Linked DNA regions of Homo sapiens. The protein of the gene in region 2 purifies or fractionates together with the protein of the main gene of each other region. This does not show direct contact. Each region holds a gene or a part of one and is shown on either strand. Other genes may lie near its edges.

Region 1 (3,727 bases), on a different chromosome or scaffold from region 2:
TGCAGCAAATGCATGGAGAAAATAAACAACTCAGCACATTCAGACCAAACTGAGGATGTTATTAAATAAAACAGCTTACTCATGGGAAAAATACATACTTTGGCAGAAACATATTACACACAGTTAAGAGATAAAAGATCAGGTAACCCAATGCTCAAGCATTTTTTTGTGTCCAAAAACCACGCCATACACTCAGTCACCTTACAGTTCTTAAAACATTTATAACATGAGGATTTCCATTTTGAAAGATCACAAAAGACTGCAATCTCACATCCAAACCGCTAGAGAGGGTGCAATGAGCCAAGATCACGCCACTGTACTCCAGCCTGGGTGACAGAGAGACTCTGTCTCAGAATAAATAAAAAGTAAACTGCTAGAGAAGAAAATGTTTTTCAAAGAGTAATCTAAAAAGCAGCTGTCTCTATAACCCACAAATTCCCAAAGACTAAGCCACATGTCCCCACCAATTCCAGGGTGTTTTATTGACACACCCACACAGAAGAGGCCTCGATATTAGCTGGGGCAAAATGCATGTAATTTAAGAAAGCCGCCGGGCGCAGTGGCTCACACCTGTAATCCCAGCACTTTGGGAGGCCGAGGCGGGCAGATCATGAGGTCAGGAGATGGAGACCATCCTGGCTAACACGGTGAAACCCCGTCTCTACTAAAAATACAAAAAATTAGCCGGGCGTGGTGGCAGGCGCCTGTAGTCCCAGCTACTTGGGAGGCTGAGGCAGGAGAATGGCATGAACCTGGGAAGCGGAACTTGGAGTGAGCCGAGATGGCGCCACTGCACTCCAGCCTGGGCAACAGAGCGAGACTCCGTCTCAAAAAAAAAAAAAAAAAAAAAAAAGAAAGCAAATGTTTACTTCAAAGTGTTTCTAAGAATGATGCACCACAGAATAATAATAATAGTAAACATTTATGAGCGGCATAATGAGAAGCAGTATAGCGCTGTAGTTAAAATCTAGAGCTAGACTTTCTAGGATTCAAGCCTGGCTCTGTCACTTACCAGCTGAGTAAATTTGGGCACCTGATTTAACCTCTGTTTCCTCATCTGTAAAATGGGAATGGTAATAGTACATATTCCACACGGTTGGTATGGAGATGAAATTGAATCGATTCTAAGTAACGCATATATTGAAAAAACTTTACTATGGAAAAGTTCAAACTTACACAAAAGCAGAGATTACATAATGAATCTCCACATACTTTTCACTCATCTTCGATGATCAACATTTTGTTGATCTTGCCTATCAGCCTGATTTTGCTTAAGCTCAATATTTTAAAGCAATCCCAGACACATCATTTCACCTATAAATATTCCAGTATGGGCCAGGCGTGGTGGCTCACGCCTGTAATCCCAGCACTTTGGGAGGCGGAGGCAGGCGGATCACTTGAGGTCAGGAGTTCGAGAGCTGCCTGGTCAACATGGCGAAACCCTGTCTCTACTAAAAATAAAAAAAAAATTAGCCAGGCCTGGTGGTGTGTACCTGTAATCCCAGCTACTCAGGAGGCTGAAGCAAGAGAATCGCTTGACCCCAGGAGGCGGAGGTTGCAGTGAGCCAAGATTGGGCCACTGCACTCAAGCCTAGGCAACAGAGCAGAACGCCGTCTTAAAAAAACAAAAAATACACACACACACACACACACACACGTATATATACGCATATATATGTGTATATATGCGTATATATGTATATATACACATATATGTGTATATATATATGCGTATATATGTATATATACACATATATGTGTATATATATATGCGTATATATGTAGATATACATATATATATACACACATGTGCCTGTGATCCCAGCACTTCGGGAGGCTGAGGTGGGTGGATCACAAGGTCAGGAGATCGAGACCATCCTTGCTAACACAGTGAAACTCTATCTCTACTAAAAAATACAAAAAATTAGCCAGACATGGTGGCGGGCACCTGTAGTCCCCGCTACTCAGGAGGCTGAGATGGGAGAATGGCGTGAACCCAGGAGGCGGAGCTTGCAGTGAGCCGAGATCGCGCCACTGCACTCCAGCCTGGGCGACACAGTGAGACTCTGTCTCAAAAATAAAATAAAATAAAATAAAATACATATATTTAATACCATTTTACAATAATTGACAATATCAACAGATAACAAAATTAACAGCAATTCACTTTTTTAAATTTTTTTTTGGCTGGGTGCAGTGGCTAGCTCCTGTAATCTCAGCACACTGGGAGGCTGAGGTGGGCAGCCTGCTTGATCCCAGGAGTTCAAGACCAGCCTGGGCAACATAACAAAACCCCATCTCTGCAAAAAAATACATAAATTAGCTGGGCGTGGTGGCACACGTCTGTATTCCCAGCTGCTTGGGAGGCTGCGGTGGGAGGATTGCTTGAACTGAGGAGGTCGAGGCTGCAGTGAGCTATGATCACACTACTGCACTCCAGCCTAGGTGACAAAGTAAGGCCCTATCTCAAACTATATAAATAATTTTTTTTTAAGCCTTGCTCTGTTGCCCAGGCTGGGGTCCAGTATATGATCTTACGATCTTAATTCACCATAACCTTTAATTCCTAGGCTCAAGTGATCCTTTCGCCTCGGCCTCCCCAAAGTGCTGGGATTGAGGCATGAGCCACTGTGCCCAGCCCAGTGGTAATTCTTTTTTTTTTTTCTTTTGAGACAGAGTCTTGCACTGTCACACATGTTGGAGTGCAGTGGAGTAATCTTGGCTCACTGCAACCTCCGCCTCCCGGGTTCAAGTGATTCTCCTGCCTCAGCCTCCCGAATAGCTGGGATGACAGGCGACTGCCACCATGACTGGCTAATTCTTGTGTTTTTAGTAGAGACAGGGTTTCACCATGTTGGCCAGGCTGGTCTTGAACTCCTGACCTCAGGTAATCCGCCTGCCTCGGCTTCCCAAAGTGCTGGGATTATAGGTGTAAGCCACTGCGCCTGGCTGAATGGTAATTCTTTAGTAACATGTAACACCTCATCTGTGTTCAAACTTCCCTGATTTAATACTCTCAATCTAATTTTTCTGGATGTGTCAATGACATGTCATAGTTCAATAGCATTTTTTCTGTATTAATTGAATATAATGGTACATTTTACAATCAATGACATCTTACATTTGATAAAGTATAATATATGTAGTGTGCTTAGAACTGAGGGCTATGTATTCGTATCTGTTCACCCAAAATTGGACACTTACTGTGTTCCAGACCTAATCTAAGCTCTTTACATGTTTTATCTCATTTAAGCCTCTCCACAATCTTATGAGGTATGTATGCACTGTTACCATTCCCATGTTAGATATAGAAAATCCAGGCATAGAGAAGATAAGGTCTCAAAGTCATGAAGCTAACAAGTGGTACAGCCATTATTTGAACCCAGTTTACTCCAGATCCCACACTCTAAATCACAATGCAGCATGGATGCCTAATATTCTCAGGTCAGTCCATCAACTTCCAAGTAAATGAGTCTCCAAAAGCATCAAAGGTATTATTTCCTTAAAATGATTAAATACATGGATTTGCTTTCAAATTCATGTTTCTAATACTCAACTATAATATATCTTAAATCTCTGGAAGTCCTTTAATCAATTTTTCAGATGAATTTTTTTTTTTTTTTTTGAGACAGAGTCTCACTCTGTTGCCCAGGCTGGAATGCAGTGGTGCAATCTTGGCTCACTGCAACCTGCACCTCCGCGGTTCAAGTGATTCTCATGCTTCAGC
Region 2 (3,727 bases):
AACTTGAAAAGGCTGGTATTCACATATCGCACTTTGTCATAAAAGAAGTCCCTGCAACAAAATTATCAAATTCTATATAGTGAATGTTATGATTAACTTATGTATTTTCAGTTTGCCAGTACATCATCTTCTGTTACTGTGAGGCATACATATAAAACAGATTAGAGCAAATATCATTACAGAGATAATTTCTGAATAACAAAGTTAACTTCCATGTCTCAGTGAATGGTCCACAGAAACCAAGTTTTGTTAGTCTAGTTATAATGTTACATATGTATATATGTGTGTGTACATGTGTACATATGCACACATGTATTGCATTAAACTAATACAAGGTAATATATTTATATGAATAATAATACACAGGCATTATAGTAATACATATTTATGTGTTACCTTAAGTAAATATGTATCCCATATATATATATGATACCTTATATAAAGATTTTCTTTTTTTTCTTCTGAGATAAATCACTTTTCCTATTCATCAAATCAACCTTCTCATTCTGAAGATTGGTGAAATGAAGCCCAAGAAAGTTAAAGGACTTGCTCAAGCAAACACTGTAAATAATGGCAGAACTGGGACTAAAGCCAGAGTCTCCTGACACGGAATTCAATGGCCTGTCATTCCATTCCTTTGCTTCTCTGTAACTTAATACCATAATTTTGGGTACTGCATTGCAATTTTCAAAACATTTTCACATACATTATATTGTTTAAGTTACACAAAAAATCTATGATGGTATCAAGGAACTGAAAGGTTAATTTCACTGCCCATGGAAACACTACTAGTTAATGACCTGGGTCTCCTTACTCCCAGTCCCTGAGATACAGCTTTGTTTCTCACCAACCATTTTATTCTTACTTGTCCCTTCACAGTTATTTTGGGAGGAGGAGACCCAAGTCAAGGCTAGGGATCTATAACCCTGTACAAGTATAACCTGTACAAAGTAGTCCCTAGTGTATGATTCTGGGATCCCTCTCTCAACCTCTTCTAACACTACATCGTGCAGGTTTGAAGAACAGGTAGCTGAGACTAACAGGTAAGATCCAGGATTCAATCTCATCTCTGTCAGACTCCTAAGGCCATTCTCCTTCCCCTGGATATGTGATGTGGTCACATATGAGGACTGTGGCCTTCATTATTTACCAAGGGTGTCTATCAGGGAGCCATAGAGTCAGAGTGGGCAGGATCAACTTCTTTTCTCCCTCTGAAAAGCTGACCTGTGTATACCATATAATGTGGCACTCAAAACAATTTGGCACATTTCTTATCCATTTTCCTACCATCTCAATATCTCTAGTGATAAATATTTGTTCAGAAGCTGGCCCTCCTGTGATCCAAACATTTGTGTGGTTAAAAAAAATGTGTCAGTCAAGCCAAGATGATGGTAGAAATATAAAGCTAACAAGAATCAGAGATTGAGCACTTCAACTTTATATCCTATTGTCAATTACCTTTGGTCTCTTGCTACTCGTCACCATGTTCCTCACGTCCTCTTGCTGCTTTCTGTAACATTTCAGACTTCCTCTTTCGCTTCCTTCTTTGTTTCTTCAAACCCGTTACAACTCTGTTGTCCTGCCTTTGTAAATCATCGGCCGGTTCGCTGTAACATAAAAAGTTCAAGTGAAACCTTATTTCTCATTAGTGATAGAATAACAATGGGAGGGTTATAAGGAAAAAAATATTTGCCCAGATAACTATACTTTCCCACCTGATATTTTTAACTCACCAGATTTAATAAATCCGATAGAAATTATTCCACTTGGCTTGCTCATATTGATCATCATAACCATCATTATTATTCTCTATACAGTCATTTTGATTATGTGACCATCTGTAACAGAAATGCTCTCCCACTTCCCTGTGCTGACATCAATGTTACCCACTCTTTAATGGTAAGTTTAGATATTATCTTGTCTAGGAAGCCAGCTCTTCCACTCCTAGTTTAGAGGGATTCCTTCCTCCTATGAACTTCAAATCTACACAGTAATGGCTCACATTGTATTAGCATTTACAATTTTCAAAGCACCTTCACTTACTCCTGTTGTCATTGGGTATACAATCTCGTACCTCCTTGTATTTGTGTGGACAGTTGGTAAAGGGGCACTTGAGAGGCTACCACATGCCAAGAACTTCACTAAGTGCTTTATATACTTTCTCATTAAATCCTCATAACGACCCTAGAAGGTGGATAGTGTGTTTCCTATTTTGCAAATGATTAATCTGGGGCTTAAAGAGGTAAAATAATTCACCCAAGGTCACAGATAACTAGTAATGGAGATGCTAGAATTTAAACGTAGGTCTGTTTGACTCTAAAGTACAAGCTTTTTCCATTAGACCACTTTGCAGTGTTCGTGAATAATGGCTAGCAGCAGGTATGATAAACTTCCTATGTGCATAATAAGCACTTCACGTGCATGATCTCATTTAATCTTCATTAACGACTTGATGAGGCAGGTACTATTTCTATCATTCCCATTTTTCATATGGGGAAACTGAGGCACCAAGACGGAAAGTAACTTGCCGAGGTCACCAAACTACTCAGTAGTAGAACCAGGATTCAAATCCAGACCTACCTAAATCTAAAGTACAATCTCTCTCCTACTACACTAACCTGTCTCATTCTCTCCTCAAAGCTTGTAAATTCCTTCAGACTGGAACCTTACCTTATCACTTTTTATATCCCACAGAGGAAATGGAAATGTTTGTTGATTTTTATGCTTATAGGGCTTTTACTTTCTAAAGAACTAAACATAAGCCAAAAAAAATAGTAATGTTCATGGCAGAGGTAAAGAGAAAAATCCAAAGACAGAAAAAAAGAAAGATTTGCACACAATATTATGAAGAGGTAATGACAGATAAATAATCCTATCCTCAGCTCAAGCTAGGTAGCATGCAGAAGAAGATACCAGGACCTTGTAAGTGCTACTTAGCTGTACAGAAAAACAAGGTTCTGAGCATGTGGGTCCCAGAGAAAGATAAGTCTGCCTTTGAAATTATGACTTTGAAGATAAATAATACTAACTTTTCTCCCCTAAAACTGTATTACTGGGTTGACACTGAGCTCCACTAGGTAAGACAAATGTGGGGCAAAGAAACAAATTCTTTCCCAATTAATCAAAAAAATGTCTCTGGGCATAAATGAAATGGTGAATGAAGGCAAAAAATATATTTATATGATTTATCTATGGCCTATTTATGTTGCCATGTTGTTACCTACAGTCTAAAAAAAATAATAACTGAAACAACTACACAGTTCTCAGTACCTTGGGGCCAGATGTGCTTGAGAATGCAGATTCTTTTGGATTTAGAAAGGTAATATGACACGATATATTGAATACTACATGACATTCCCATGGGGTCTGGGGTAGCATCTCATAATCAAACACAGTAACATTTCTGCAACAAATATATGAATATTCACTCTAAGAATTAAATAATGACTAGAAGGAATCTCAGTCCAGGTTTGTCGCAAAATGAATACAACAAAATTTTTAGGTTTGCAGAAATTTTTGAATTTCAGGATTTTAGAGAAGAAATTGAGAACTTATGCTTTTTTCTAATGCTGTGACGTCAATATAGCCTACTTTATATAATTAAAATGACTATGTTTTCTTTATCTACAGATTTTCTTTTAAATTTGGTCATGTACATTTCACCTTAATTAACAACAAAAAAGCAACACGGCCTTATTATTTCAAAACTGACCTAGGTTTCAGAGGA
Region 3 (3,727 bases), on a different chromosome or scaffold from region 2:
CTGGAAGGGCAGAGAGGGAAGAAACTGCTCCAGAATGGAAATGTTCCACTGAGCTTGAGACTGACAGGTGTTGGGTGATGGGTTGGGCCCACTTCACCCTTGTTGGTTCAGGTGGGGCAGCTGAGAGGCTGTTTCCATCCTGGCAGGCAGCACTGCCAGGTCAACAGGGGTAATGGTGGCAAAGAGGTTGAATTCCTGGGCTTAGGAGACTGGAAAACCAGGGTTCAAATTCCTGGTTTGCACAGACTGAGTCCTGTGACCCTGGGCAGGCTACTTACCTCTGTACGCTCCTCTGGTCACTGGGACAACGGAGTCCCTATCTTCGTGAGGCTATGTGGGGCCCTCAGCACAGTGCTGGGCACACAGCCATGCTCCCCTACGGTGGATGCCCCCACCCCATGCAGGAGCACACAGGGAAGCTGCTGCCCTTGCCCCTGCATAGCACATGCCCTCGCTAGAGAGACAAGGGTCTCTGCCTTCTTTCTCCTTTAACTAGACAACCATCACCCTGTCCTGCCTGGCACCCACAACCTTCTGGACCGCCTGCTATGCACACCTGTGAGGATGCACCGAGCATTCCAGAAACAGGGCAGTTCCAATGTCTACGTGTGGTGGGGGTGAGAAGCTGTGGAGCCCAGGCTTAGGTCTGAAGCCCTAGCCCCCCATCTGCAGGAACTACTCACATTCCTGATGATCACATCTTCCATTGGGTCAGCCATCTCTTCATCTTCGCCTGGAGCCAAAAAAGAGAGGCCCATGAGCGCTGTGGGAGCTCCTCAAAACCTACCCTTTCCTTCTGCCCCCTCCTGGCTCACCAGGCTGCGGGGCCACCAACTCCGGCCCCAGAAAATTGCCTTCCTCAGACCAATATCATCCTTCTGCTAGAAGAGATGAGACCCCTGAGCACTGCCCCTTTCTCCTTCCCACCCTAGGCCCTAGGGATAACGGCCCCTCAAAGAAGCGGTGATCCTACTTTTGAGGTGAATATGGCTTCGTTTGAAACTTTTCTTTTCCCACTCACCCACCCTTCATCTGTTTGAGATTTGAAGAAAGCCCCAGGTTTCCGGGGGAGTCAGGCGCTCCTGCAGCCCCATACACACCCCCACTGTGCCAGGAAGGCTTCATTCTCCTGTTTGAAATCTCTGCCCCATGCAGTATGTGCTGGGCTCCATGTGGGAATATAAAGTATGAAACTGACCAATTGGAGGGAAGAGAAACTCAGGCAAAGTCAATCAACAACCAAAAGACGATAGAGAGCACGTGACCGGCCATGTGTGGTGGCTCACACCTGTAATCCCAGCACTCTGGGAGGCCGAGGAGGGAGGATCACCTGAGGTCAGGAGTTCAAGACCAGTCTGCAACATGGCAAAACCCCATCACTACTAAAAATACAAAAATTAGCTGGGCATGGTGGCGCACGCCTGTAGTCCCCGATACTTGGGAGACTGAGGCAGGAGAATCACATAAACTCAGGACATGGAGACTGCAGTGAGTCGAGATCGAGCCACTGCACTCCAGCCTGAGTGACAGAGCGAGACTCTATCTCCAAAGAAAGCACATGACCAAGGGCTGAAGACTGGGTTTCCTCTGGGCTTGGCAGGAGTTCTGGGGGAATCAGGCCTAAAGGCTGAGGTGCCCAGGAAGGGCTACAAAAGGAGCTTTGAGCTGAATCCTGAAGAGCAGGGGGGTTTGGAAAGGCAGAGAGAGAGGGGAGGGGTCCTGACAGCCTCAGGAATGCCTGGGCACCAAGGGGGACAGGAGATGGGAAAGTATACAGGGGCGAGAGAGGAGCAGAGAAGACACTAGACACGGAAATATAACAGGCACATGTACACCAAGTACATACGCTGTCCCCATTACACCGATTCATCTTCATTCCAACCCGGAAAAGTGGGTATTAGGATTGTATGATATCCACTCTGAAGCAAGGAAACGGAGCTAAGGAGAGGCTGACCGAGCGGCTGCAGTCGTGTGGCTGGTGAGTTGGGTGCATGTGGAGCAGTGAGGCTCCAGTTAGGAGGTGCAGTGAGACAAGGGCCCAGAGCTCGCAGCACTGGGAACCAAACAAAGGGATGACAGGTGTGTTCTTGAAGACCTAGGTGTTTTTTTTTTTTTTTTTTTGAGACAGAGTTTCGCTCTGTCACCCAGGCTGGAGAGCAGTGGCACAATCTTGGCTCACTGCAAGCTCTGCCTCCTGGGTCCACGCCATTCTCCTGCCTCAGCCTCCCGAGTAGCTGGGACTACAGGCGCCCGCGACCACGCCCAGCTAATTTTTTGTGTTTTCAGTAGAGATGGGTTTTAACCGTGTTAGCCAGAATGGTCTTGATCTCCTGACCTCCTGATCTGCGCGCCTTGGCCTCCCAAAGTGCTAGGATTACAGGCGTGAGCCACCACGCCTGGCGAAGACCTAAGTGTTTCTTAGCTAATGGCTGGATATGTGGAGAGGGGCCAGGAAAGACTAAAGAGAGCTCCGAGATGCCACACCGGAGGGACTCCCGGGCAATGTGAGACATTGGGATTGGGAAGTTGGGAGGGTTTCAGCCTCTGGCTCTTTCTGCCTCTAAATCATCTTCAGGGCCTTAGCCAAGTTTGCATTAAAAAAAAAAAAAAAAGAGGAAGGAAGAAAAGGAGAAAGGAAGAGGAGGGGGAGGAGGAGGAGAAAAACAGAAGAGACTAACAGCGTATCACACACAGTAAGGGGAAGTACCATTTCCGATAGTTTCCTTTAAGTTAAATATGTATTGTATAAATGGCTCGGTTACAACATAAAAAGATTTCTTAATGTTTCTCAAAAAAAGTTTGAGAAACTCAAAAAGTTTGAGGAAGCTGCCGAGAGAAGAGTTTCTCTGGTCTGTTTTTAGCCACGCTTCCTCAGCAAGTGATCACCGAAGGAATAAGTGAACACGGTGAATGAATGGACAAGCGCGTTGGGCCCACCTTTGGCACCTTCCTCTTCCTCCATCTTGTTGCCGTCTGCCTCCTCCCTTATGATCAGCCGGCCATCGGCGCTCACCTTGAAGCCGTGGTCCTTCTTCCTGCCCCGGCCTGGCCCTGGCTGCGTGGCTGGGGTGTAGAGTTTGGCATGAGGAGGTGGAAGGCCAGTCCCATGCTACTCACCCTCATCATGACCAACAAGCCCGGCTCAGGGATCCCAAACGGGCGCCTCTCAGCCCTGTCCATGGGCCTGCCATGGATGCCACCCCCTACCCACCACCTGAGAACCTGGCACCATGGCAAGTCTGTTTTCTGAGTGCACTGGCCAGCCCTGTGCTTACCCAGGACTCGTTGGGCCACCTTGGGATCCAGGAAGTTGAGGGGCTCGTCCCCACCGCCCTCTTTCAGCCATGCCCGGCTCCTCTGTCGTGCCAGCTTCCGCTGCTCCTTGCCTCGGCTTCTTTCCTCCTCCTCATTGTCCTCCTCGTCCTCTGAGTCAGCTAAAATCTCCTCAATGCTAAGGACAAAAAGCCCCCAGTCAGAGTGCTCCCAGGAGAGGCGGGGGTCAGCGGGTATTGCCTGGGCAGGCCCTTGGGTTGGGGGGACACCGGGTCCCATGGCCCTAACATGGTCTCACCTGTCACCTTTGCCCTGGGCGGGCTCCTCCTCCTCCTCCTCCTCTTCTTCCTCCTCCACGGCAGCCTGGCTCAGGGCTCGGTGCCTCTTGGCCCGGGCCTCAGCTTTCCGGATGTTGACCAGGACTCTGTGGTACTCCTCGGGCAACAGCCTTTTC
Region 4 (3,727 bases), on a different chromosome or scaffold from region 2:
CAGCCAGGCCCAGCGCCCGAAGGGCAGGGGCGGTGCGGGCAGGGGCGGTGCGGGCAGGGGCGGCCACTGCTGGGAACTGCCTGACCTAGAAGGCCCCTTCAGATTTTGGAGGCAGATGCTGTGGGGCATTGAACGTATTTTTTTTAACTTAAAAATTAGAGGAAAAGGCCACCAAAACCCTAACGACACAGACAACGGAACATGAGCCCACGCCACGCTCCGGACTCCTGGGGACAGGACCCCCTCCCGCCACGCCCATGCCTGGAGTCAGCCCGGATTCTCCAGGGTCTCCAGCACCACCCGCAGTGTGCGTGGCCTGACTGAGGAGGGGTCGGGCCCGATGGAGCACGAGAGTTGCGTGAGGGTGAAGTAAAAGCTGAGAGAGTGGGCGGGCGAGCGCCACTGGGCAGAGGCAGGCGGGTCTGAAGGACCGACGGGTGGGCAGGGAGCCGCCGAGGGGGAGCGCAAGGACGAGGTGCCAGCAGGATGCGGGGCCGCTGGGGCCAAGGAAAGGCTGCTGTAGTCCCTGAACCCTGCGTGGCCTCTGCCCAGCCCCAGGGCTAGAATGTCACCATGAGGACCAAAGGGAGAAACCCACAGTGGGCTCAGCCAGACAGAAACGGTGTCCAAGCGCATGAGCCCCCTATTGTGACCACACCAGAGCCTCCCCTCCCCAGCATCAGGCCAGCCAGGCCGTGCCCCACTGCCACCAACCAGGCATGAGACACGGGCTCTGCCCTCACCTCCTGGGAGAGGATGGCGACAGAGCTGCGGTGTCCCGGTTCGGTGGGAAGAGAACTCTGCTCCCAGGGCTGCCCACAAGAGGGTTCTGCTGGAGACGTGGACAGCAGGAGGGAAGCAGTCCTAACTTGCCCAGAGACCAGAGCCAGAACATCGCTGTCGGGGTGCCAAGGACACCAAGACAACCCAGCGCTGCACCACAGACCCCACACCCAGCACCTCAGCACGGCCAAGGCTCCCTAGGGCCCTGCCCACGCTAGCCGCAGGGTGCCCAGCACAGAGACAGGCTGCTATCCAAGAGCTCTGTGCCGATGGCTCGTGTGACAGCAACGACTCATCAACAGGTACCTAGGAAACCCACATTTTGTTTTAAAGAAAGTACATCAGCAGGAACTGAAAAGCCCAGAGAAAATACAGCCGAAAAACATCCCTTTTTACTCAGGGAAAAGGAAGGTAACTCGGGGCAGGAGCCCAAGAGTGGCAGGGTCGTTCCCAGGCATGGAGGCCAACCCTGCATGAGGCACTGGCCATGTGTGCTGCCACCAGAGGCCCCAAGACCACCACGGGCCATGACCACCAAGGGCCATGACCGTCACGGGCCACGACCGCCATGGGCCATGACCCCCATGGGCCTCAAGACCACCACAGGCCACGACCACCACGGGTCTCAAGACCATCATGGGTCTCAAGGACAGGCCCCAAGACCACTGCGTGCCACGACCGCCACAGGCCCTAAGACCACCATGGGCCCCACGATCACCACAGGCCACAACTGCCACAGGTCCCCTATACCACCATGGGCCCTGACGATCACAGGCCACAACCACCATGGGCCACGACCACCACAGGCCCCAAGACCACCACGGGCCAAGACCACCATGGCCAAGACCACCACCAGCCATGTGCTCAGCCACCTTAGGACCACCACAGACCAGAGACCACTCCACAGCACTGTGACTCGGTGCCCCACTGCAGACAGCTGTGCAGAGAGGGGCCCAAGGACCCCCATCTATCAGGCCTGGTTTAGATGAGACCCTGGCAGTGGAATGAGGTTCTGGGGAGCGCTGGGGGAAGAGACTATTTGGCAAGCGTAAGGGTGACTGTGACCATTTTAAAACACGGCCACAAACCTTTGATTTTCATCGCATCAAGAGACAGAGTCTATGTCCCCCCCGCCGCAAATCTGGGTGGGCTTGTGGCTGCTTTACCCACCCAAGGGAGGCAGCCCACACTGACACCACAGGATTCTGGGCTGAGGTCGTGAAGGCCGTGTGGCTCTGCCTGGCACAGGAGACCACGTCCTTGCAGCCCTGAGCCCTGGGAGAGGGGACAGCTGGACAGGGGTACCCTTCGTGAACATGGCTGTCAGGGGCGGTCTGGACACACAAGAGGCCCGGCTGTGCTCACCTGAGATCCTCACCCAAGTCCCAGAGCACAGGATGTGAGCTGAGTGTCGATCTTCCTCAGGTGGAATGTACCAGAACCCTCTGGGGCTCCCCGGCCCCTCAGCATGACACTGTACTCAGGGTGTACTGACCCTGCTGCTTTCGGCCTGAACTCTGACCCCTCGAATCCAGAATGCTACAAAATATCTGTTTGATGCTGCAAAGTGTCAGGGCAGGTGGCAGAACAGCTGCCTGACTCCCCCATGGGGGCCAAGAAGCTTGGAGCTGGCAGTCTTCAAAAGAACCCAAAGCAAGGCCACAGGCAGAGGCAAGAGCGGAGTTTACCACCAGCCCTGGCCCCTGGTTCCATCCCCAGCTCTGTGGTCCACACCCAGGCAACTTCTCCACCACTGACCAGCTGGTGAGAATCACTGGGCAGCCCCTTTCCAGACTCCACAGAGCTGCAGCTCCAGACCACTCTCCAGCAGACGGCACCAGCACCCAGACCCCAGAACCACAGCGACAGGGGGCCCGAGCCCAGGGTTCCCACGCTGCAGCAACGCGGCCTGCCACCTGCCATTCCCAGAGCCTTCGCTGAGACGCTGGCGGGATCCCCTGCCCAAGAGTGTGCATTATGCTCCGGCACAGGCCAAACTCTCCTTAAATTATCTGGGAAGGCCGGGCCCAGTGGCTCACACCTGTCATCCCAGCACTTTGGGAGACCGAGGCAGGCGGATCAGTTGAGGTTAAGAGTTCGAGACCAGACTGGCCTACATGGAAAACCCTGTCTCTACTAAAAATACAAAAAATTAGCTGGGCTTGGTGGCGCTCACCTGTAATCACAGCGGGAGGCTGAGGCAGGAGAAAGAACTGCTTGAATCTGGGGGGTGGAGACTGCAGTGAGCTGAGATCAGGCTATTGCACTCCAGCCCGGGTGACAGACAGACTCTTGTCTCAGAAAAAAAAAAAAATCTGGAATCATCACTTTAATACCAGGTCTTCGGCCTTCTCTCACTTTCATACCAGGTCTTAGGCCTTCTCTCAGTTTAATACCAGGTCTTTGGCCTTCTCTCACTTTAATACCAGGTCTTCGGCCTTCTCTCACTTTCATACCAGGTCTTCGGCCTTCTCTCACTTTAATACCAGGTCTTAGGCCTTCTCTCACTTTCATACCAGGTCTTCGGCCTTCTCTCACTTTAATACCAGGTCTTCGGCCTTCTCTCAGTTTAATACCAGGTCTTAGGCCTTCTCTCAGTTTAATACCAGGTCTTCGGCCTTCCCTCACTTTCATACCAGGTCTTTGGCCTTCTCTCAGTTTAATACCAGGTCTTCGGCCTTCCCTCAGTTTAATACCAGGTCTTCGGCCTTCCCTCAGTTTAATACCAGGTCTTCGGCCTTCCCTCACTTTCATACCAGGTCTTTGGCCTTCTCTCAGTTTAATACCAGGTCTTCGGCCTTCCCTCAGTTTAATACCAGGTCTTCGGCCTTCCCTCAGTTTAATACCAGGTCTTCGGCCTTCTCTCACTTTCATACCAGGTCTTTGGCCTTCTCTCAGTTTAATACCAGGTCTTCGGCCTTCTCTCACTTTCATACCAGGTCTT

Evidence for each region. The genes of interacting proteins can lie anywhere in the genome.
Region 1: the proteins of FMR1NB (region 2) and PITHD1 purify together in Homo sapiens (affinity purification with mass spectrometry, with the first as the bait; one large-scale study listed by BioGRID). This does not show direct contact.
Region 3: the proteins of FMR1NB (region 2) and RRP12 purify together in Homo sapiens (affinity purification with mass spectrometry; 2 studies listed by BioGRID and IntAct, with this or other methods). This does not show direct contact.
Region 4: the proteins of FMR1NB (region 2) and BOP1 purify together in Homo sapiens (affinity purification with mass spectrometry; 2 studies listed by BioGRID and IntAct, with this or other methods). This does not show direct contact.

What each region holds. Positions count from the first base shown.
Region 1 is NC_000001.11:23,781,361-23,785,087, reverse strand, and holds part of PITHD1 (PITH domain-containing protein 1), read right to left. Parts: intron 1-3,727. UniProt on the Homo sapiens protein: Promotes megakaryocyte differentiation by up-regulating RUNX1 expression.
Region 2 is NC_000023.11:148,022,745-148,026,471, reverse strand, and holds part of FMR1NB (FMR1 neighbor protein), read right to left. Parts: intron 1,608-3,727; coding exon 1,472-1,607; 3' UTR 1,459-1,471; intron 1-1,458.
Region 3 is NC_000010.11:97,363,171-97,366,897, forward strand, and holds part of RRP12 (RRP12-like protein), read right to left. Parts: coding exon 3,572-3,727; intron 3,452-3,571; coding exon 3,276-3,451; intron 3,064-3,275; coding exon 2,938-3,063; intron 734-2,937; coding exon 684-733; intron 1-683.
Region 4 is NC_000008.11:144,277,769-144,281,495, forward strand, and holds part of BOP1 (ribosome biogenesis protein BOP1), read right to left. Parts: intron 1-3,727. UniProt on the Homo sapiens protein: Component of the PeBoW complex, which is required for maturation of 28S and 5.8S ribosomal RNAs and formation of the 60S ribosome.